Linked DNA regions of Homo sapiens: all the other regions are linked to region 2. The links come from fine-mapping of genetic effects on gene expression. A gene starts in region 2. Each other region holds a variant in brackets. All regions are shown on one strand. Distances are between the middles of the regions. Region 1 overlaps PCMTD2 (protein-L-isoaspartate (D-aspartate) O-methyltransferase domain containing 2). Region 2 holds the start of PCMTD2 (protein-L-isoaspartate (D-aspartate) O-methyltransferase domain containing 2). Region 3 has its middle 48 kb from the start of PCMTD2.

Region 1 (8,187 bases), 23 kb after region 2:
TGTATTATCTGTAAGATCTGTCTTGTAAACCACATTCTTGACAACTATTTGCTTTTGAGTAGTTTGTATTTTAATATGTGACTTTTGTCTTGAAAAGTAGTAAAGCCATAGACTTGTGCAAAACAAGTTTCAAGTTTATAGATATTAAGTTTGTAATGTGAGCATCAAATGTGTATGTAAAAATACTTTTTACCAGTCTGGAACTTGGGAAAATCCAGGGAATTTGAAACATAGATTTTAATGAGCTGGTAAACACAAATCATGTCAATAAAGGTAGTCAGGATATTTTATCCTTAGCATTGCTTCTGCATCCTGTGTAGGATTCCAATTCTTGAATATGTTCTTTTCAAAATCTTAAGAAAAGAACCTTTTTTCTTTATTAACATCATGTGTTTACTTTCAGCAAATATTTGTATTACTGCTTGATTCTGTGACAGTCACAATAGATGTAGAGAAGGCATTATTTTTCATTAATAAATGTGAAATTGGAATGGACAAATGGAGAAGTGGCTGGCTCCAAGTACATAAGAGAATAGGGCCTTGAAGATTGCGGTTAACGTTTTTGGCATAATTTTCCCACATTCAACTTTCTAAGGGGCAGAAAATATTTTTTTTTCATTCTCAGTTATCTGTTCAGAGCACAGATGTTATTTAGATCTTGAAATTCTGGGACCAGTCTCCCAAAGAGCTTATGTTTTCTCTTTTATTGTATGTGCTTGTTGGGATATTTTTTACATTCTGCCTTCCAATTTTTTATTTTGGCAGTTATATATTTTAAGATAATTTCATGCTCTCTTTACTGATCTCTGAATTTTCCTTCCTGCTGTATTCGTCAGGGTTCTGTAGAGGGACAGGACTAATAGGATAGATATATATATATGAAAGGGAGTTTATTAAGGAGTATTGACTCACAGGATCGCAAGGTGAAGTCCCACAGTAGGGCATCTGCAACCTGAGAAGCAAGGAAGCCAGTCCGAGTCCCAAAACCTCAAAAGTAGGGAAGCTGACAGTGCAGCCTTCAGTTTGTGACTGAAGGCCCAAGAACCCCTTTCAAACCACTGGTGTCAATCCAAGAGTGCAAAAGCTGAAGAACTGGGAGTCCTGTGTTCGAGGGCCGGAAGCAAAGCATGGGAGAAAGATAGAGGCCGGAAGACTCAGCCAGTCCAGTCCTTCCGTGTTCCTCTGCCTGCTTTTATCCTAGTCGAGCTGGCAGCTGAATAGATGGTGCCCACCCAGACTGAGGGTGGGTGTGCCTCTCCCAGTCCACTGACTCAAATGTTAATCTCCTTTGGCAACAGCCACACAGACACACCCAGGAATGATACTTTGCATCCTTCAAGCCAATCAAGTTGACACAGTACTAATCATCACACCTGCATATACTGTTATTTTCTGTGGTTGCAGTACTATAGACTTTTCTGAGGATCCTAATTAGAATTTTTAAAAATTTTACTTCATCGGAGGTGGGAACGTGGATTCTGGCCCTTCCTTGAACAAAGAAGGAAACGGCCAGAAAGAGGAAGGGATGTGGGGACTTACTCCTCTAGAGGTGATTTATCAGTTTGATCATGTTGATCTTTCATTTCTTGCTGTATCTCTTTTTTTTTTTCTTTTTTAACTGTTGTTGGAGACTCACGTTTGCCTGTCTGTAATTACAAACCAGGCTGGAGTAGGGACAGTCATTGGCCAACCTCATAGTGGGATGAGGAGAGCTGGTCTTCAAGCCAGGGGCCTGGACATATGAAGGGTAATGGTCTCTGGGAATCAGTGAGCCTCCTTGATCCGTCTGCAGAAACCCCTTCCTTCTGGTTCCCTGCTGCTGCTGGGCATCAGGATGCTCTCCCACCATTCGAGCTCCTTGCAAACCTCATCCTAACCCTAACCCTGCTGTGCCCCAGCTCTCTGTCAGATGCCCGTCACCAGGGGCTCCACTTGCAACCTGACTCTGAACAACTGTGGACCTTGTGCTTATGTCTTTCCCTTCTCTTTCTCTTGGAGACAGAGATGCTCTGAACAACTGTGGACCTTGTGCTTATGTCTTTTCCCTTCTCTTTCTCTTGGAGACAGAGATGTAACCCATTGCTCCACTATGTTGGAACCAGAATGTCCAAATTAGCACTTGAGGTTCTGCATGAAAGAGGAAATAGCAGAAAGCGGGGATAGAGTCATAGACCACACGGGCAGGACGTCCCTTTGACCTAGGAGGGCCCTGGGCAGCTGGGCACTGGGTGGTTAGAGCAGGGGTGGAGTCATAGACCACACGGGCAGGACGTCCCTTTGACCTAGGAGGGCCCTGGGCAGCTGGGCACTGGGTGGTTAGAGCAGGGGTGGAGTCAGACCACACGGGCAGGACGTCCCTTTGATCTAGGAGGGCTCTGGGCAGCTGGGCACTGGGTGGTTAGAGCAGGGGTGGAGTCATAGACCACACGGGCAGGGCATCCCTTTGATCTAGGAGGGCCCTGGGCAGCTGGGCACTGGGTGGTTAGGTGGTTGTTCTGATGGTCAAGAGGGAGAACAGCATGAGCCCTGCCCCAGGCCTGTTGTTCTGTGTCAGAGATCAGGGCTGTCTTAATGCCCCATATCCCCCACCTGGCCAGCTCCCCCAGACTCAGAGGGCAGCAGCAGTAACTACTGTGCCTTGATCCGCTAAGGTGGTGGGGGCCACCCCTCTGCCATCCCAGGAAACACGCAGAGCCTGGGCCATCCCAGCCCTTGCCGGTAGCCTTTCCTGTGACCAGCAGGGCCCAGAGACTGTGTGAGGAGGTGCTTGGGTGGTAGCTGGTCACAGGCAGAGGCACGGGCTACATGAGGACCTCCAGGGGGTGTTGCTCACTCCTATCAGGTAGCAGGGTCACTCCTGAAAGTTCTAGAACCATGACTTAGCCAGCTGCATCATGTCCATTTTGGGGAAAATAAAATCTCTGGAGCTGACCCTTGGCTGGGACTGGACCTCCCAAGAAGTGGCACCTATGCAATGGTTAGAGGTCTGGTCCAGATGGAGGCTGAAGGCTCCTCCTCACCCACTCCACTTGGCACCTGTGGGGAGGGGCCACTGCCCTCAGCATCCTCTTCCCACAGCACTGCCACCCCTCCGCCCCAACACTTCCTCCTGTCCCCTTTCTGGCCTTATCCCTGGCCTCTCTGAGAAGAGGGATGTGATCCCACGGCCTGCCCTCACCTCCTTAAAGGGCCAGCCTGGGCCCAGTGGACACAGTTGAGACACCATCTTGTGCCTCTTCCTGTGCCTTCCTGAGGCACCTTTCCTAGAGATTAAAGGGACATAACGGCTGTTCCAAAGTGTTGATAGCTGGAGGAGGAGCCCGGGGAGATGTGAGGCACGGGGTTTGGGCAGCCCTGGGTTTTCCAGGCTCCAGTGACAGCAGGATGGAGGCTCAGGGTCAGCTCTGGGTACAGTGGGGTGGAGACTCAGGGAACATCTTCAGGGAGGCCACCTCCACCCCAT[C/A]CCTCCTGGTCCACAGAGATCTGTTGTCTCGAAGTTCTGAAGTCCAGAGTCTGGAATGAGGGTGTTGGCAGGGCCGGCCCTAGGGAGGCATCTGTTCCAGGGCCTTTCTCCAGCTTCTGGTAGTTTCTTTGCTTGTGACAGCAAAGCTCCAGTCTTCACAAACCTTCTTCCCTGTGCGTGTTTCTGTGTCCACATTCCCCTTTTGATAAGGACATAATCATCATGAATGAAGCATGGCCCTAATGACTTCCGAACTTCATCATTTGCAAAGACCCTATTTCCATATAATGCCATACTTGTAGGTACTGGGTGTTAGGGCTTCAACATATGAATTGTTAGGGATGGAACTCAACCTATAACCTTGTCCCTGCCTCTGCCAGTGATCTCCACATTCCTGCTGGCCCCAAAGGCACCATGGCCCCTTCCAGGGTGCCCCAGGCAGATCACGGGAGGGCCTGACTGCTGGGGATGGGGCTGGTGCTGGGATCCTCTGCCCAGTGAGGGCTGGGATGAGACTATTATGGGGTTGGGGGTGCTGAAGTTTTGAAGGCAGGGTAAAACAGAGGCTGGGTCCCTCTCTGGACCCCAGGCTCCAGGGAACACCTCTCCTGGGAGTTCCCATGCTCCCTGTGGCCTGGGCAAAAAAAAAAAAAAAAAGTACTTGCAGTCCGAGGCCCCCCAAAGGCAAAAGCCTGGCTCCGATAAGCATCCTCCCCACCCTGTGTGCCTTTCGAGCCCCTGAGGTTTGTGGGGAGTCTCAGAGGTTTTGTGGGGAGCCTCAGACCAGATCCTGGTCAGCAGGGTTGAGGCAGGCCTGAGAATGTATCTTTAGCATCCAGAGATTGGGAGGGTGTGGACGGAAGCAAGGTTCAGGCATCCTCAGCTCTAACTAAGTATCAAATACTAGTGTGAATCCACTTCCTGGAGCTGGCCTCTGGGGAGCCTTGGGTTGGTGTACATAAACAGGGTCTGCCTGATTCATCAGGTTTCTCATGGGGCCTGGACCACCTCATGATCACAAAAGTGACCGCACAGCTTCAATGCCTCTCCTGTGTGGGCTGGACACACGTTCATCTGACTCACAAACTTTCCCTGGGTGGCACCTGGAGCCCTGGCTCTGGGCTGGAACCTGAGTGTGAAGCCACTGGAGGCTGTGGGATTGCAGGTCAGGTGAGTCACTCAGCCACCTGAGCCTGGCCCTCCGCTCTGCACAGGGGACTAGCTATAGATAGCAGGGAGTTCACCTGAGCAAGACACCAGCACACGTTGGTGCTCAGAAAACTCTGATTTCCTTTTATTGAGATGGGACAACCCTTGGAGACCATGTGTCAAGGTCTGGATTACAGTAGGACAAGGTTCAAAGGGCCCTGTGAGCCCTGAGGTGTTGCTGATCCCTGGGTGTCTGTGAAGGCGAGAGAAGGTGACCTGGATCTGGAATGAGGAAACGGCCATGGGTTTAGGAGCTGGCAGACATGTGTCCAGAATGTGGTTGGCCAGGCCTAGACAGCGCTGGGCTGTGGAGGGCCTTGAACCCCAGGCTAAGGGAGCATGTGGGAAGAGGGCTCACCCTGGTGAGGGAATGCTGGGGTGGGATTTTGTTTTTTTATTCAGGTAAAATCCACATAATATAAAATTAACTGTTTTAAGATGTAAAATTCAGTGACATTGTGAACCTGCAAAATATTGTGCAACCATCACCTCTTAGTTCCAAAACCCCAAAAGGAAGCCCCCTACCTATTAAGCAGCTGCTACCCAATGTGCCCTCCCTCCGACCCCCGGCGACCACTAATCTGCTTTCTGTCTCTGTAGATTTACGTATTCTGGATATTCTCCATGAATGGAATCATGAAGTATGTGACCTTTTGTGTTCAGCTTCTTGCTTTTAGCATGTTTTGAGGTTCGTCCACATTGTAATGTCAGTGCCTCAACCCTTTTCACAGCCGAATATTATGCTGTTATAGAAATAGACCATATTTGACTTTCCTGTTCATTTGTTGGTGGACATTTGGGCTGTGTTTTGTTGTTGTTGTTGTTGTTTTTGAGATGGAGTTTTGCTCTTGTCACCTAGGCTGGAGTGCAATGGCGTGCCCTCGGCTCACTGCAACCTCTGCCTCCCAGGTTCAGGTGATTCTCCCGCCTCAGCCTCCCGAGTAGCTGGGATTACAGGCACCTGCCACCACTCCCGGCTAATTTTGGTACTTTTGTAGAGATGGGGTTTCACCATGTTGGCCAGGCTGGTCTTGAACTCCTGACCTCAGGTGGTCCGCCCGCCTCTGCCTCCCAAAGTGCTGGGATTACAGGCATGAGCCACCGCACCCGGCCTGTTTCCAACTTTTTAAAATTGTGAATAACACCGTTATAAACATGTGTATACAAGTTTTTGTTTGAATACCTCTTTTCCATTCTTTTATGTATATATATCTAGGAATGAAGTTGCTGGGTTCTATGGTAATTCTGTTTAGCGTTTTGCAGAACCACCAAACTATTTCCCACAGTGTCTGCACCATATGACATGCCCATCAGCAATGTTCACGTTTCTCTACTTCCTGACACTGCATGTTAGTTTCTGTTTCTTTCTTTTTTTGTAATAACCATTCTAATAGGTATGAAGTGGTATCTTTTTGTAGTTTAGATTTGCATTTCATTTCCCTAATGGTTACTGATGTTGAATATCTTTTCATGTGTTATTTCTGTATCTTCTTTGGAGAAAAGTGTCTTTAATTCTTCTGCCCATTTTGCATGGGAGGTGGGTGGGGGTTGTTTGTCTTTTTGTTCTTGAGTTGTAAGAGTTCTTTGTATATTCCGGATACTAGGCCACTGTCAGATTCTCAGTTCTCAAGCATCCAAAATGATTAACAAAATGACAATTTCTAGGGCTTCTGTGGGAGAGTATGGAAGGTCTTTTTGAACTTTTTAATGCTGTCAACTAAAGAATGATGAGGTTCATAAATATGGAAAGGAGAGATTTCTATATTTTTGTTTATTTTTATTTTTTTGAGACGGAGTTTCACTCTTCTTGCCCAGGCTGGAGTGCAATGGCGTAATCTTGGCTCACTGCAACCTCCACCTCCCAGGTTCAAGTGATTCTCCTGCATCAGCCTCTCGATTAGCTGGGATTACAGACCCTCACCACTATGCCTGGCTAATTTTTGTTTTTTTAGTAGAGATGAGGTTTCACCATGTTGGCCAGTCTGGTCTTGAACGCCTGACCTCAGGTGATCCACCTGCCTCGGCCTCCCAAAGTGCTGGGATTATAGGCACTGCACCCAGTGAGGTATTTATTTCCTGTAAAGGGTTGCAGCCTGCAGGGTAGTCCTTCTGATAGGCTGGGAAGCATAGCCTCCAGCCAGAAACTAGAAACAAGACACTTCAAGGAAGAGGTGAAGGAAACAGTAATTTATGCTGAGTGGCATGGCCAAATACACATCTTTAATAAGCTCTAGGCGGAGTCATGAATATTTATGAAAGGGGAAATGCGTGCATGCACAACTGAGTTCCTTGGTTCTTCATGGGTCCCATGTACAAAAAATAGCAGTGTTAGCATCATCCCAGGGTGGAGTTTTCAGCCCTCTGACATTAAAAGGTGAAGCAGAGGACATGAAAACTCGCTCTGTGCATCCTCTGTGTGCTGTCCAGAACCTCTCCGTCATGGGTGGTCTCTTATCAGGCAAGAAAGGAGAGGTTGATATCAGTGGTGATTTTGAAAGGGCTGGTTTCTGTTAAATCCTTAGGGAAGAAAGCCTCATCATGGTTTGCAAAGCAGGGGGTATAATGGGGTGTACCTGACTCCCATCATCCCATTCTGGCCAAGCTGAGAACTCAGTTTTGAAAGTTACTCTGGGGTCCCCTCAGCCAAGAGTGGGTCTGTTCAGTCAGCTGGGAGCTTAGGATTTCATTTTCATTTATCAATGCTAATGGGAATGAGCAGTCTATCTTCATGGCAGCTGAATTTGCAAGAAACTTCGTGGATGGGGTTAACGGCAGCTGTATTTTCTGGGCGCTCCATGGATGGGGTTAACGGCAGCTGAATTTGCAAGGAACTCCGTGGATGGGGTTAATGGCAGCTGTATTTTCTGGGAGCTGTGCTTTAATTGGATAAAGTAAGTTCTGGTAAGATTTCTTCCTTCATCTTCGGTATCTCAAATGTTTTCATTTAAATAATCTTTATAATAACTCTTGATGTCTGAGGGGGTTCCCACACAGTCATCTATTGTAAGACTTTCTGATTCCTTTTTTTCCTTTGGTCATTATGAATAGGGCTTCTGTACATAATTGCATGGTAGCTTTTGTTTGGAAATCACATCAAAGTGGTTGTCAAAATACTTAGGAATGTCGTTTTTGGATTGTAAGGAGAGACTTATTTAGCTTTGGAAAAAACTGCCCAACTTGTAATAGGTGAGGAAAAATAATTTTCTCTCTATCTTTTCAGAATTCTTAGATTGGACCCTCTGTAACAAATGACAGATTAAAATGAGAAAAATGTAGAAAAGTTTAAAAACATGTATACCTTATGGATACATGGGCGATACTCAGGGAAAAATGAGTAAATCTCCAGCAGGTGGTTTTCAATTCAAGTGTAAATACTATCTTCAACTTGAAGATTTGAGGCACAGTAGTGGGGAGTTAACCAGCAAAACCACATTAGACAAGAGTAACGTTTGTTATGCAGACTGAAGTCCATGCGTCCTCCATTGATAAGACTCTAGTGATTTAGTTATCCTTCT
Region 2 (8,187 bases):
ATGATAAATGTTTTGTATACTTTACCATAGTAAGAATAGTGTATTTCGAAGACAACAACACAACCTCCCACATGTGGCTCTAGCTACTTGCTCCCCAGATACCCAGCCGCACCCCTGCCTCAGGCCCTTGCATGACCTTCCCTCCGTCCGAGGCTCCTCCTGCAGATACAACACAGATGAGTGGAGAGATGCAAGGGGATAGGCGAGGGGACACTGAAGACATACTCAGAAAGCTCCCCGTGGCTGGGTGTGGGAGAAGCCTGGAGGAGGGTGACAGCAGCAGTTGGATTCCCATCCACCTTCCTGTGCTTACTACTAGCTGGTAAGTACAAGAAGCCAGCGAACCTCTTGCAGTTTCAGTTCCCTCATCTGTAAAATGGAGGTATCAGTGTCGTCAAGCCAAAGGCTGCCAGGAACCTGCCTGTAATTGAATGAGTTGGGATTATCACTCATTGCAGCGAGAGGGATGCAGATCATGGAGAACTGCAAGGCATCTCAGTAAGAGGTGTCGGGAAAAGTTACTAAAGGTTATGGGCTTGAGTTGGGTGATTTTTTTCATGGATTAGATGCTGTCAGGAATTGGGGGAGTGGATGGGGGGAAAGGGTGGTTCTCTGGGCATCTCAGTAGATGTTATCTGTGAGGAGGCCAGGGCAGAGGGAGGCTCAGCTGTAGCTGGTAGAGGAGCGGGGGTCATTGTTACTAACTTGGAGATGATATGTCTTAGATTTTGTGGGTGGCACAGTTACCCTGTTTTTGTTTGTGCTTAGACAAAATTATGACGTGGCCTTGGATCATGATGGTGCTCCTCTACAAAATTATTTATGTCCAACAGGAGACCCCATGGCCTCGATCTGAGTGCCAGGCCAGCTCCTGATGTCACGGTCCACTTTTCTTCTTGGAGGTCATACTAGTACCTATTTCATGGAAATAACCCATGTAGAGTGCTCAGTATATACCCTGTGAAGGGTTATGAATGCTGATGGTAGTGGAAGCTGATGTGGAGGGGAATGGTGGAGACACCTTGGAAAACCAAGCAAGAGTCTGAAGTTGTGGCAGGCCGGGTCTCACTAACGCAGGCCTCCATTACAGCTGTCCCAGCACGGACTGAGTAGCCAGGTTAAACATTAAAAGCTGATTGAGCCAATGCCCTTATACAAAGGTTGGAATGTAACAAAGAGCCCACCAAGAGTTTTGCCTAGGCTCTTCCTGGGCCTTGAAGCATGACAAGATAACGAAGGAACTCTTAACAGGACCCTTTTTAGGATTAAACAAGTTGTATTAGGGATCTGAAGAAACTCCCCAGGCCTCCACAAACAAGTTTATGGGGGTCTAAAGGAATTCCCCATATCATTATGATTTAGCAGGAGACAAGATAAGGGTAATCACCCCAGCACCTAGACCCATTTAGATTAAGTAAACTTACTGAGGCTCCAGAAGAGGGTCTTCAGGACTCAACCTTAGTCATAGATTAAAAGAAGTTAATCACTTATGTCTGTAGATGAATGCACACTTACATGTAGACATACAGCTTAGAAGGTATACGAGCTTTGGAAAACTTTGTAATTTTGAGTTGGTATGGTGATAATTTCCAGGCCTTCTCCTTGTAACCGGTTACAGAAATAAAACCTCTCTTACTCTCCAGCTCATTTGCATCTTGTTATTGGGCCAGGAGAAGTAGTAGCCCGACCCTCAGTTGGGTCCAGGAACAAAGGGAGTGTCTGAAGACAGCAGTGATGTGATCACCTGTTTTAGGAGGACCACTCGCCAGAGCCCAGGGGAATGGTGGGAGGGGTGGGGAGAGGTGAGGGGAGCTGGGACAGGGCAAGGAGGGATGTATGGAGGACGTGTCCCCTGGCAGTAGGAAGAGAGTCAAGGATGACTCCAGGGCTTCTGTAATTTGAAACAGTCACAAATAACCACAAGCTCTCAGGTGGAAGGACACTGAGAGCCCCATGAAGGTCATGAGGTGGTGGGCCACCTCAGGTCCGTGGATCCAGGACCATGGATCAACAAGAGAAGTGAGGTCTCCCTGGGACCACATAACGTGGTGAAGGCACCGGCCTTTGGTTTTCAAACTCTGCTCCTAAGTGGAGCTCCAGGGTCTGGGGAGGAATGCCGAGTTAGGAGGGAGGCGGGAACCGGAGACCCAGGCCCACTCGTCCGCCCCAGCGACGCTGGCACTTGCACATATGAGGCGGCTTGCATGGCTGTGCTTGAAGAAAGGGTTCTGCAGCTACAGCCTATCTGCAAAGCCCCACGCGAAGTTTGGGCAATGGGCTGTGTGAACCCAGAAAATGGGAGACAGGTCTCAGTTAATTTACAAAGTTTATTTTGCCAAGGGTGAGGACGCGCCCGTGACACAGCCTCAGGAAGTCCTGACATGTGCCCAAGGTGGTCGGGGCACAGCTTGGTTTTATACATTTAGGGAGACAGGATACATCCATCGATACATGTAAGAAGCACATCGGTTCGGTCTGGAAAGACGGGACAACTTGAAGCAAAGGCAGGAAGACTCCAAGCGGGGAGGGAGCGTCCAGGCCACAGATAGGTGAGACACCAACGGTTAAATTCTTTTGAGTTTCTCATTTGCCTTTTCAAAGGAGGCAAATCAGATATGTATCTATCTAAGTGAGCAGAGGAGTGACTTTGAATGGAATGGGAAGCAGGCCTGCCCTAAGCAGTTTCCTGCTGGAGTTTTCCTTAGTGATCTTGGGGGCCCAGGATATCTTCCTTTCACAGCTGATTTCACAAAGCCGGCTGGGTAGGAGGGCCCCAGGGCCGGGTGGCCGTCCGCGTGGCAGGGCGGGGGTCCCAGGGCGGCTGTGCTTGGTGCTGGGAGGCCGCCCGAGGGCAGCGCCGGCCCCGAGTCAGCAGCCGCAGGGCACCCTGGAGATGCGGAACGCCCCCAGCCGTGGGTCAGCAAAGGCGTCTCAGGTGACCCTTAGGGAGGGCTTCTGAGGCAGCCCGTGCGGGGTCCGTCCTGGCTGAGCACTGCGCGGACGGCGCGCCCGCGAGACTCGGACCCGGCCTAGGGCTCAGCGAGCTCTCAGCGGGGCGGGCGGACGCAGGCAGCCCAGGGGAGTGGGGCCCGCCCTGCGCCGCCATCACCCCTTTAAGTGCCAGGCCCGCGGCGCATGCGCAGTCAGGCCGTTGTGCGCAGGCGCAGAGGCGGCGGCGGCGGCGGCGGCGGCGGATGTTTACGGCGGCCGAGGTTGGAGCGGCGCTGCTCGGCCGCGGACACACGAGGGACGCGCCCGAGGAGCTGCAGGTGGCAGCCCAGGCGGTCCGAACCCGTCGGCCGGCCGAGCCTGGAGGTAGAGCCGCCGCCGCCGCCGCCGCCCCTCGGTCCGGCCTGCGGCGAGCGGGTGGTGTGTCCCCTCGGCCCCTTCCCTCCTCCTTCCCCACCCCCGGCACCCCTGCGCCCGGAGCTCTCCTCTGGGGGCGTCGCTCCTCCCCACCTCGGGCACCCTCACCTCCCCCCAGCGGCCTCCAGGGCGTCCCGCGTTTCTCTCTCCGAGCGCTCGCGGTTTCCCGTCGGTCTCTCCCGGTGCCCGTTGCTCACTCACACTCTTGGGTCTGGTTAGTCCAGACCTGCAGCTTGTCTTTGACTTCCCAAGTGGGAAACGTTTGCAGTTCCAAGGCAAGCCAAGAGCTAAGGTTTAGAACAAAGTCTGCCTTGGACCCTTTCAGAAGATGACAGGATTTTTTAAAAAAATAATTGCGCCCCCCCGCCCCGTGCCTTGGAGATAGTAAGAATTGGAGCAGAGCACTGGGACTTCAATTCACGCATGGAAAGAGATCTTTGTTAGTTGGAGGAAGGAGAACTTGCCTGAGCTTCGGGCCTTTGTTTTGTTTTTGTGAGAGGGACGTGTCTCCTAAATGAATGTTTGCTCCAGCGTTGCACCTCAAATAAGTCACCTAAATATCCACGCCCTCTTTATCCACCCCCTCTTTACTCGTGTGACTAGAATAGTTTTCATTTTTCTTCTCAAGGGAATGGCTAAACAGCTCCTATCTGGGCGTTTGATAGACTGTCATTCAAGAATGAGTGAAGTTGAGGTGCCTATAAGCAACTCAGAAATTGTTGTGGCCACGCTTGGGGGAAATAGAGCCCTACACTCAGGTGATGAGAGGAGACCTCAGAGGTGACCGATCCAGGGCCTTGCTCCCTGCGCCACCCCAGCTCGTACCTCCAGTGGAACTTGGCTGGGCTTATCAAGAGCTCCTTTCATTCATTGCAACTTCATTTGTTAGAAAGCTTCTCTGTGTATTTAGTAGGCATTGTCTCCAACATGTACCACTGGTCTGGCTTTTGTTAGGCCCATTAATAGTGTACATGTGACAGCCTTTCAAGTATAGGTGCTCCCCGGCTTACGGTGGGGTCGCATCCCAGTAAACACATCGTTAAACCTGAAGTCGAACCATCCGAAGTCGGAGACCATCTGTATTTGAAAAAAGTCCCTTTGCATTGCTTGTAAGAGTTCTGGTTTTCAAGGTGAGAAATCTGTTTGTGTGTTTGTTTGATCATTCTGCCCAAAGGAGATGTGGCTTTGGGTCCTTTTCCCCACTCATCTTCCACAATGAATTACTTTGTCCATATTACCCTAAAGAAGTGACATCCAAGTTGGAATGTGATCTTCCGTATGTCGCCTCCCAAAACCCCACTACCATAGCTTCATGCTTGTGTTGACACAGCCACAATCACAACTCAGGTGTCAGTTCTGAGACCTTCCCATGCCTGTCGCCACTCAGCAAGTGTTCTTCATGTGCCCTGGCAGTTCGCATTGTAAGGAGCAGCCAGGTTGTTATGGACTGTTGCTAGTTACCACAGAGTAGTGAATTATATTAAGGATTAATTACAGCAGACAATGTGCACAGTATCATCGAGTGCAGCGTTCTAAAAATGATTCTACACTTTTACTTTGAAAAATTGGATTTGACCAGATTGTAGAATCTGGGTGAAAATGATAGGATTTGGTTTGGCGAAGAGCTTTGTTGTCGGTGTTTTTGGTGACATCATGACTGATCATATCGATGGTTTTCAGTGCGAGGGAGTGTTAGATTACCAGACAAAGATGGTAATAAATATCAGACCCCACAGCTATTCACATGGATCCTACCAGTGGCAATAGGTATAGATAGGGTTACCCCATCGTCAAAAGGTTACCGGTGTGTTGTGTGGTAAAGAACGTTGCTGTCTTGAGTATTTTTAAAAGCTGCACTGGTGTGGTATTAAAAACACAGGCCTTTTGCCATACAGTCCTGGGTTTGAATGCAGCCCCCTCCTCACAAACTGGCTATGTGATCATGAACAAATTAACCGGCCAGCTCCAATTTGCTTCTTAATGTTGTGAAGTGTAAATGAGGCCATGACTGGCAGGTGGTACCTGGAAAAAGGTGCTTGTTTTTACTAAAAAGCTGTCTGAACTTTCAAATTAAGGCAGAGTTCAAAATAAGTGATAGTTACTTAGTGGAAAATGAAACCTATCCAACATACAGTTTGAGGTTACCTTCTAGAGATGTGGCATTGAGACAATGTTGGAACATTATATACAGGCTTCTGGGTGAAGAGGTGGCTTTGACTGAGGACGGTATGCGATTTTCCAGCTCTTTTCCTAAATAGACCCTTAAGCATCCAAACACATGATTCCGCTTTTAACCACTGACCCAAATTTTAAGATGACTGTGGTAGGCTAGGGTGCAGCCTCAGAACTGAGTGGCTTATCCAGGATTAAAGTTGACCTCATTAGGACTTAATTCCATCTAAGTCTAAGTCAGCTGGCTGTGGACCGTAATCTAACAAGGGCTCCGAAACAATTCAAAAAATTCAAAAAGGGTGTGAAAATTTAATGACTGGACCATCCTATTGATTTGCAAAACCTAATATTCAGCTCTAAAATCTTGAGTGTGAAGATTGAGTGTTCCACCATAAAAATAGAAGAGAATTTGTGTTAAGCTATACCCTTCACACTTTTTGTTCACTTGTAAGAAACTATGTGATTATTTTCATTCCTGGGAAAACCTCCCACCGCTGTCTCCAGTTGTGTACGTGGGTGTGTATGAAATCCGCCCCAGGCCCCTTGTCACCCCACAGTATTTCTTTACGATCCTCATTCTACTGTTAGAAATCCAGAGGAATGTGAGGAGGAAAGCAAGTATAAACTTCATCATAATTATAACAAGTTGTTAAAAAGGTTGTGTTCATTTCAGAAAATGTCTTCATGAGGTCTGGTGGTCTTTTTCCCTGACAATTTGTATCTGGTGTTTTGTAAAGCATTACCATTTTATATGAAGTTAAAGCAGTTACTTTGAAAAAGTTACATGGGGTAAGTATAAAATTGGAAAGGATATTTTTGTAGTTTTAAGAAGAGTAAGACTTCTCCGCGTGAAAAAGTGTTTTCTTGTGAATTAGCTGAAGCTACCCTGTATTTTAATAGTTAGGCTCAGAGGTGACACATGCTGTGCTTTTTCTTCTTGAAGGCAGGTTGGGAGAAGGTAAGACAAGTAGTTGTTATTTTTAAAGAGCTGGGAAAGCTGCGTATCATGCAATTGAGGAGGGGCTGTAGGAAGTTCTGGTAGCAGCCCCTCCTACACTTAAACTTTAGCCAGGAAGCTGATTTTGCATTTGTTAGAAAAAGGTATTTGTCACAGTACGTTCAATTTGGGAAGAGTGTTTTCTTGCTGTTTTTGTCTAAAATTTGAACATCAAAATATCCAAATCAACAGGTCAGATGGATTGCTTGACTTGGGTGGGTACTTTTGTGTATGTTGGGGATATAGAATTCCCAGATGTAATATAGGACACCACCTAAAGTTTTTTTTCTTTTCTCTTTTTTTTTTTTTTTTTTTTGAGACAGAGTCTTGCTCTGTTCCGCAAGCTGGAGTGCAGTGGTACGAGCTCTGATCACTGCAACCTCTGCCTCCCGGGTTCAAGTGATTCTTCTCCCTCAGCCTCGCCAGTAGCTGGGATTACAGGCATCCACCAGCATGCCTGGCTAATTTTTGTATTTTTTAGTAGAGACGGGGTTTCACCATGTTGGCCAGGCTGTTCTTGAACTCCTGACCTCAGGTGATCCAACTGCCTCGGCCTCCCAAAGTGCTGGGATTACAGTCATGACCCACCGCACCCGGCCTAAATTTGAATTTCAAATAAACGTCAAATAACTTTTAGTATTGTTGTTTACCTTAATTTCCAATTGAACTGGGATTTTTTTTCCTTCTAAATCTGGCATCTCTGGGTGGGGCAGGGGATGAGGTGGGTGTTGACAAAAGATAATCTATTATTTTCAGAATTCAGAATTTCAAATTGGTATCTGTTTAGAACTTCTATTGTTCTGCTCTTACCTTTAACATAAATCGCTCTTTTTAAACATTTTTAATTATAGTATTGCCTAAGTGTAATCTTGAACATGGGCGGTGCTGTGAGTGCTGGTGAAGACAATGATGAGCTGATAGATAATTTGAAAGAAGCACAGTATATCCGGACTGAGCTGGTAGAGCAGGCTTTCAGAGCTATCGATCGTGCAGACTATTATCTTGAAGAATTTAAAGAAAATGCTTATAAAGACTTGGCATGGAAGCATGGAAACATTCACCTCTCAGCCCCGTGCATCTACTCGGAGGTGATGGAAGCCCTAGATCTGCAGCCTGGACTCTCGTTTCTGAACCTGGGCAGTGGCACTGGGTATCTCAGCTCCATGGTGGGCCTCATTCTAGGTAAGTGTGGAAGGAGAGTCTGAAAACTCATCTGTCTCAGGGAAGGAGGCATCTCCTTTGACAGAAAATGTAGTCTGCTAATGGCCTGCCTGGGTCGAGACCGCAGCCTTCCCAGTAGTTATCTGACATTGACACATCACTGGGTGGTGGATAGAGGGATGAGGGAGGAAGGCCTGCATGCATCTCATGGGCCCCGGATTCTCCAGAGGGACCTCTCCTGTTCTCTGTCCCCTCTTCCTGTGCTGCCACAGCCTGTACTGCGCACCTGCCCTCTGGACAGCGGAGGATAAAGACAGTTGTGTAAATCTTGACCCCACTGTGATTTCTCGATTTAATTTTATCACTCATTCTTCCTTGTCACTCCTTCTCTAAATCGATGGTAATTAACTTGAAAGTCCTTTCGGAGTACTTCTAAGCAGTTTTTGTTTTGTTGGTTTTTTTTTTTTTTTTTTTTTGACAGTTGTGCCCCA
Region 3 (8,187 bases), 47 kb after region 2:
TCTGGGCTCAAGTAATCCTGCCTTGGCCTCCCAACATGCTGATATTACAGACATAAGCCACAGTACCCGGCCAGTTTTCTTTTTTTAAAAATCTATTGGTTATTAATTTGAAGCCTTCCTTTTCATAGCTGTGCTCCTTAATTGGGAGCAAACATGAATGGACCACAACTTAGCCAATTTTCTATATACGATCTTTGCCATCCTAATTTAAAGGAATATTAATTCTTTCTTTTCCTCTTTCATTCCACAAACCTGTATTGACTACATCTAAGTTCTAAATGGTGCACTGGATGTTGAAAAAGTTGATGATGAGCAAGAACAAAATTCCACCTTTCAGGAGACTTACAGTTCAATATGGGAAATATAATTTGTTAAAATATAAAAGTGCAATTGTGTTACATGCTGTACGAAGTACATGTTGACATGTGAGCATATAATAAATGGGCTGGAGGCCAGAGGATTGCCAAAGAGAATGGGCCTCCTGCTGAGATGAAAAGTTGAGCAGGGATTAGTTGGCGAAAGTGGAGGGACGACCCTTTCTAGGCAGGAGGAAGAACATGTACAGAATCTCTGAGGTGTGATGCGACAAAGTCTATATGAAAAACTGAAGAAAGGTCTAATGTGGCTTAAATACAGAAGCCAGTAGGAGAGGAGTCGAAAAGAGGCTGGAGAAGTAGAAAGTGTCTGCATTCTGCAGGAACTTATATTGTATAAAAAGAATTTCTCTTTATTCTAAGTGCAATGTGAAGCCAATGAAGTGCCTTAAACAGGTGATGTGATTTGATTGAATTTATTACTTCACTTAACAAATATTCATTACATGCCCACTGTTTGTCAGATATTGCTGTAGCCCCTGGTGATACAGTAGGGAATAAAACAGGCAAAAATCCCTGTCCTCTTGCAGCTTATAATGGACTGCAATGTTTAATATGTCAGAGGAGGTCCACGGAGGAGTGACTTCTAAGCAAGAATCTGAAAAAAATGAGGATATCTAAGGAGGGAACAAATGGTTCAAAAGCCCTATAATTGCAAGCAGGCATGATGAAGCAATTGCAGTTGTCCTGACTCTCAACACCGTGGAACTCAAAGGAGATGGAAAGATTCTTTCTCTCCCTCATATATTTTCTCTCTGTCTATATATATAGAATATGAGACATTTCCCTAATCATTATGTGTAATTACAATTACATATATATATATATGTATGTAATATATAAACATATATATGTAATTGTAATTACACATAATGATTAGGGAAATGTCTCATATTCTACTCAAAAATAAGCAATATAGCAATTACTGTTTTTTACATTTTACAGTTACAGTTTCAGAGAAAGTTTGATATTTATCTAAAATTTTTCAATGTATGAACTTTTTCATTTGGCAAACCATAATTGTACATATTCTTGGGATACAGAGTGATATTTCTTTACATGTATAGAATGTGTAGTGATCAAATCAGGGTAATTTCCACTAATTTAAAATGCCACCTTTATGTTATTGTAATTTATATATATACTATATATATACACACACACATATATATATACATGTCCACATACAGTGTGTGTGTGCACATGTACACACATGCATATGTGTATATAATGCCCAGTATAAGCAATGTGCGCAAATAAAATTAGCTAACAGAGATAGTATAGAGTGAGAGGAGAGGCAGATTAATCTTTGAGGAAAAGCACAATTTTATGGCTGAATGGAGAAAGCTGAGGTGGTTTCTAAGATGGAGAATAAGATGAAAAATGTAAGTACGTTGTTTGACTGAATTCAAGAAAGAAGGGTAAAAGAGAAGAAAGTAGTGGTCTTATCATTAAATGCCACAGAGAGGTAAAGATAAAAACAACATATTGTTTTGGGTTTAGTAATTTAAGGGTTACCAAATTCCGTTTTGGAGGAGGAACAGATTCCATGTCCACTAGAATGGAATGAACAAGAAATGGAGGAGGAAAATAGGTAGTTTTTCAAAAGTTTTCAAAAATATGAAAAGAAGAAATGAAATGGTACTTGGAAGAGATTGTTGAAATGGGAGAGACTATGGTGGCTTGTTTAGAAGCAGTTGAGATAGATCCAATTGAGATAGAGATATTGACTATATAAACAAAAGAATGACAAATTAATAGTGTAATGGATAACTTGACTTTGGCAAATATTGTGAATTTTTGTGAAAGTACAACTAAAAGGCAATGTCACTCCAATAATCACCAGAGTAATCAATTTGCTTATTGCTGTCCCTTTAAATATAGTTCTCTGGTATCAACTAACATGTTTTTAACTAATGATGCTTCTTAAAGAAAAGGGAAAAGACCTTTTTCTTTCTTTCAGTCTTCAATGATTCACTGCTTCATCTCGCTCCACCAAAGATAAATGAAATCTACATCTCTTATACATTAACAATGCATGACAATTTATAAATAGCTAAATTTTTGGAGCTAACTTGAAGTACCTGAATGGAATTTAATCAACCCACTAATCTCCTTCTCACTTCTCAGTTATTTATCAAGTTTATGTCAAGGGACAAGGAAAAATTATCCAAACATTGTTTAAAACAATCATCATTAATTAGTAACACTTATCCAGGGGGGTTTTTAACCTTTCCCCCACTCAAGGATTATTCTAATGTCAGAGTAGAATAAAAAATAAGTGCAGCGATGCTGACTCTTCCAAGCTTAACATTTCTCACAAGTCAATTAGCTTTGTACTGGGAGGAGGGCGTGAAGGGCTGCTTGCGGTAGTTGTGTAGCAGCAGCACAATGGCCGCAGACAAGGAAAACAGTTTCTAGGAATTCCTCGTATATAATTTTATATTTTTGACAAGATTAATGACCCATGCTCCCTTCCTCTCCATTTCTTTTTTTGGAATTCTGTTGGTATGTAGTTACTATATTTTATTAAAGGAAATTAGCCTTATCTCTTATTATATTTTATTAAAGAAAATTATTATTCCTTTATATTTTTATTAAAGGATTTTATTATTATTATTAAAGGAAATTAGCCTTATCTCTTATTATATTTTTATGACCTTCAAAGTAGTGTCTCTGCTTAAAAGTGTACCTTGGCCGGGCGTGGTGGCTCACACCTGTAATTCCAGCACTTTGGGAGGCCGAGGCGGGTGGATCACGAGGTCAGGAGATCAAGACCATCCTGGCTAACACGATAAAACCCCGTCTGTACTAAAAATACAAAAAATTAGCAGGGCATAGTGGCGGGCGCCTGTAGTCCCAGCTACTCGGGAGGCTCAGGCAGGAGAATGGCGTGAACCCGGGAGGCGGAGCTTGCGGTGAGCTGAGATCGCACCGCTGCACTCCAGCCTGGGCGACAGAGCAAGACTCCGTCTCAAAAAAAAAAAAAAAAGTGTACCCTGAAGCACACATCAAGCGACATGTAGAGTTCATAAATTCTGGCCAAATGGTCATACCTCAAACCTCATCAGCACTAAGGCTCTTTACTTGCACTGACAAATGTGAACGCTGGGGAATTTGGAAATGATATATAATAGATATATAATATATAATAGATATATAATATTATATATGTAATAGATATACAATATATAATATATATATAATAGATATATATTATATATAATAGATATATAATATTATATATATAATAGATATATAATATATAACTTTCCATGTGATTTTCCTCTTAATTTTTTTCTAGCTGATCCATATGAATTCCTCTTATTAAGAAAAATAAAGCATCCAGGATTCAATGAAGAACTATCACCTTGTTAATCATTCAGAAACATATTGCAGACTTAAGCCATTTTTGATACAGATACTGAAACAATTACTTTCTAAGAGCAAACTTGAAGGTATGGATAAGGCCCTGAGTCATCTTCCTGAGCTGAATGATAGTTAAGCTGAATGTACGTATAAAATATGATTTTCTAACCACTTGCTCGCCAACAAGGAAAACTTTTAAGTAGAGCAGAACCTGAATAGACAAGACATTTCTTTCTTTTGGTAGAAAATGATTTACCATCACTGTGTAGTTAATTGTAGACTAGGTAATTTTAACTGTGATTTATTGCCGGAGACATTTTCTTCTGTACTGTAAAGTGTGTGTCAAAAAAAAAAA[T/A]AGCGATTTTGGAGGATTAGGGGAGTTTGATAAATTGCCTGCAATTCTGGCAGTATGAACTGCATATTAATTTCTCTCTTTCTAGAACATTTTTATTTATTAATTCCTTACAAAAACTCCCTAAACTTTGGAACAGCTCTCAATTGCCTGTATTCTTTTTTTTCTTATTATGGTACTCTTCTAGAGATTTGGCTTGCATCTATGAATAAGCCAGGACATCTTCAGAAATTGTCTGATTAAAAACACCACCAATGGAGTTTCATTAAATTTGTATTGATCTGACTAGTGAAACACACACATCTATGTTGCTGAGGATATTTTACTGCAGTTTGAGTTGTAATAATAGCTCTGTTTAAGATCCGTCAGTCACTTGAATCTTCTCTAAGGCTTTGGATGTTAGAAGTTAATTTGCTTTCTTACAAGGCCACATTCTATCTTGTAACTAAACAACTGAATTTTATGTCTTAGCGTAGATGGTTTATTACTTTCTGGTTTTTCTTTAGTAAGAATCCTATAAAAACACTAGTATTTTTCTCTGAGTTTAAAATTCAACACATGCCTACTGATATGGTTAGGCTTTGTATCCCCACCTGAATCTCATCTTGAATTGTAATCCCCATAGCCCCCATAATCCCCACAGGTCAAGGGAGAGACCAGGTGGAGGTAATTGAATCATGGGGGCAGTTTCCCCTGTGCTGTTCTTGTGATAGTGAGTTCTCACGAGATTTGATGGTTTTATAAGGGATTCTTTCCCCTTTGCTCGGCACTTCTTCATGCTGCCTTGCGAAGAAGCTGGCTTGCTTCCTCTTTGTCTTCCGCCATGATTGTAGATTTCCTGAGGCCTCCCAAGCTGTGCTGAACTGTGAGCCAATTAAACTTCTTTCCTTTATAAATTACCCAGTCTTGGGCAGTTCTTTATAGCAGTATGAAAACAGATAAATACACCTACTATGTAAAACTTAAAATACAAAAAAAAAAAACATTATCTCACTAACATAGGAGCTAATATTTTGGTGTACTTTGTTTAGTATTTTATATTAAAAATATGTACATATATATTTATATATAATTAAGAACATGTATGTACAATCGTGCATACATCATGTACATACATCTACTTAAGAAAATAGCTATGTAATATACCATTACTCAACTAGATTATAATTTTTCTCCATTTCTTTATTGTAATTTATCATTTTCTACTTTTTTGTTTTCTCATTTTTATTGCATATTTAATTATGCAAAAAATACATTAAATACATTGAAAATATATAGTGTAGCTATAAGAATAAAGAACGATGGTAAAACAAATGCTAATACCCACTACCTGACTTAAAGAATATGATACTATTTTTTTCCAATTGAAATCCCCTCAACTACTCAGAATTACTGCTATCCCTTTTATCCTTTCATTAATTTTCTTCTAGTTTTCTCACATGTGAATCTATTTCTAAATACATTTCTTTATTTTGCAAGTTTTTGGACTTCATATAAATGTAACCATATTGTATATATTCTTCTTCAGCTTCTTACTTTTTCACTAAACAATATGTTTTGCTGATACTTACATTCATATGTACAGTAATAGTTGATTTATTTTAATGGCTATATATTATTCCATTGTTAGAATACACCAGGATTTATTTTTACTTATTTTTTTTGCTGGAAAATTGGGTGTCTTTTTTATTTTTTGATATAACAAACAATGTTGTAATCATTTTGTATTTACTTCCTAGTCCACTCCTGTAAGTTTCTCTTGAGTACATACTAGCAATGAAGATGCTGAGTCACTGCATATACATACTCACAACTTTATTCTATAATGTAATATTCTATAAAGTAGCTGTATCAGTTTATACTTTAACCAGTAATGGACAAGATTTTCTGTTACTTCCCATCTTTGTTAATTATTACTTTTAGACTCTAACTTTTATCAGGCTCATGGATGTAAAAAGCATCTCAGGGTGTTTTTAATTTGCATTTATCTGCTCATCTATGAAGATGAGCTTCTTTTCATATAATTATGAGTCATTATTTTTGTTTTGCCTTCTTTTGTTTATGCATTTTGCTTGTTCTGTGTCTTATTTTTCCTGTTGATTTTTGGGAGTTCATATATATTCTAAATGTATATTCACTCATATATATGTTGCAAATATTACAGTTTATGATTTGTCACCTTATGATATCATCCAAATAGAGAAGCTTTATATTTTGATGTAGTCATATGTTCATTTTTCCTCCTTAATGTTTGTTTTTCTTGGTTCTATGACCTACCAAAAGTAACAAAAATTCTCATTTATTTTTAATCTAAATGTTTTAAGTATTTTCCTGGAATTCACCTTGAATTGATTTCTATTGGAGATAGGTATCCAATCTAATTTGCCTCATATGGATAACCACTTGTTCTATTACTGCTGTAACAAATTTCTACAAACTAAGTGACCTAAAATAACACAAACTTGTCATCTTACAGTGTACACAAGTCAGAAATCAGGCATGAATTTTAGTGAACTAAAATCAAGTTGTCGACAGGCATGTTTCTTTATGGCGGCTAGGGTAGAATCCATATCCTGGCCTTTTCTATCTTCTAGAGAACATCAGCATTCCTTTTCTCATTGCCTCTCCTCTCTCTTTTTAAAGCTGGCAATGTCACATTTCTCTGACCATTCTTTCATTGTCACATCTCTCTCTGGACTCAGCTAAGAAAGGTTCTCCATTTTTAAGAACTCATGTGATTAGACTGGGCCCATCTGGATAACCCAGGAAGATCTCTCCATCTCGGTTTGCATCCTTAATCACATCTGATAAGCCTTTATTGCATTCAGTGTAACATATTCACAGGTTCCAGGGTTAGGCATGGGCATCTTTGCGGGCCATTATTCTCCCTACCACATTATTTGCCTAGCATCTTTCATTACATTGTCCATCTATTTACTTACTGATTTCTAATGACATCCAAATCAGTTACAACATTTTATGTAAGCATTGTTTTTATTTTTATGTTATTCCACTAGTCTATTTTTCTACTCATGAATTATGGTACATGAGTTTATTTTTGCAACTTTAAGCTCAATAACATGTTTTAAGATTTCCTCAACTTTCTTTTTCCACTTCTTCAGAAGTTGACTCTTTTGGCCCTTTGGTCTTCTATACACATTTTAGAAATGCTTTGTTGAGGACTAAGAGGAATGCTAAGATTTTGATAGGAATTTCATTGAATTTTGAGTATATTGGCATGCTACAATGGTTAGTGTTTTATACATGAAAATAATATATCCCTTCCTCTTTTCCTAGTATCATGAGATGTTTGTTAGGCAGACATGAATATTGAGTTGTATCAAATGTGTTTTTCTGCATTATTGTGGTAGTGATGTGATTTAGCTCCTTTAATTAGTTAATGTAATGAATTACATTTGTAGATTGCTCTAACTATTGAAACAAGCTTGAATTTCTGGAATAAGCCCAATGTGATATTTATTCAACAAATATTCATTGAGTATACCTAGTATGTAACATGCTTTAAGAATACACCAGTGAACCAAACAGAAATATCTGACATTACAGAACTTAACATTCCAGTATTTGGAGACAGACGATAAAAAAGTGAACATGTATATTTACAGTTTGTCAAGGAATGATAAATGAAGACTCTTAAAGTAGATGGGGAATTGGGAGTGAAGTCTGTAATTTAAATAGGGTGGGCAGGAAAGCTTCACAGAGAATGGGACATTTAAGAATAGACTTGAAGGACAGGCAAGAGCAATCTCTATGTTTATATGGGAGAAAAGGTTCCAGGCAGATGCAGTAACAATGGCAAGTATCCTGAAGTAGGATCATGCTGGAGTTTTTGTGGAGCATCAAGGAGGCTAGTGTGACTGCCACAGAATCACCCAAGGGAAGATGAGAAGATCAGACCAGAACAGCACTTGGGCATCTAATGGGAAAAGTTTCTCAAGCCATCATAAAAATTTCACTTTTACTATAAATACTACGAGAAACCATGGGATGTTTTACAGTAAGAAAGGTGGCATAATATGTTACATGTTTTAAACAAACTCTATAGCTTCTGAGTTGAAATAGATTGTAGGG

Evidence for each region. PIP is the estimated chance that this variant, and not a neighbour inherited with it, causes the effect.
Region 1: its variant is fine-mapped to the expression of PCMTD2 in whole blood (INTERVAL, PIP above 0.99). The same link has a PIP of 0.9 or more in subcutaneous fat.
Region 3: its variant is fine-mapped to the expression of PCMTD2 in whole blood (INTERVAL, PIP above 0.99).

The regions. Positions count from the first base shown.
Region 1 is chr20:64,275,732-64,283,918 of GRCh38, forward strand. PCMTD2 (protein-L-isoaspartate (D-aspartate) O-methyltransferase domain containing 2) reads left to right here. Exons shown (of 6, transcript NM_018257.3): 6 at 1-495. It also overlaps the pseudogene IL9RP5. Among named protein-coding and RNA genes, the nearest start is that of PCMTD2, 24 kb to the left of the region's middle. The variant C/A (reference allele first, on the strand shown) is at 3,464.
Region 2 is chr20:64,252,556-64,260,742 of GRCh38, forward strand. PCMTD2 (protein-L-isoaspartate (D-aspartate) O-methyltransferase domain containing 2) reads left to right here and starts at 3,193. Exons shown (of 6, transcript NM_018257.3): 1 at 3,193-3,315; 2 at 7,387-7,717. The coding sequence starts at 7,411.
Region 3 is chr20:64,299,473-64,307,659 of GRCh38, forward strand. It overlaps the pseudogene SEPTIN14P20. Among named protein-coding and RNA genes, the nearest start is that of PCMTD2, 48 kb to the left of the region's middle. RefSeq lists enhancers at 2,759-3,259, 3,260-3,760. The variant T/A (reference allele first, on the strand shown) is at 4,099.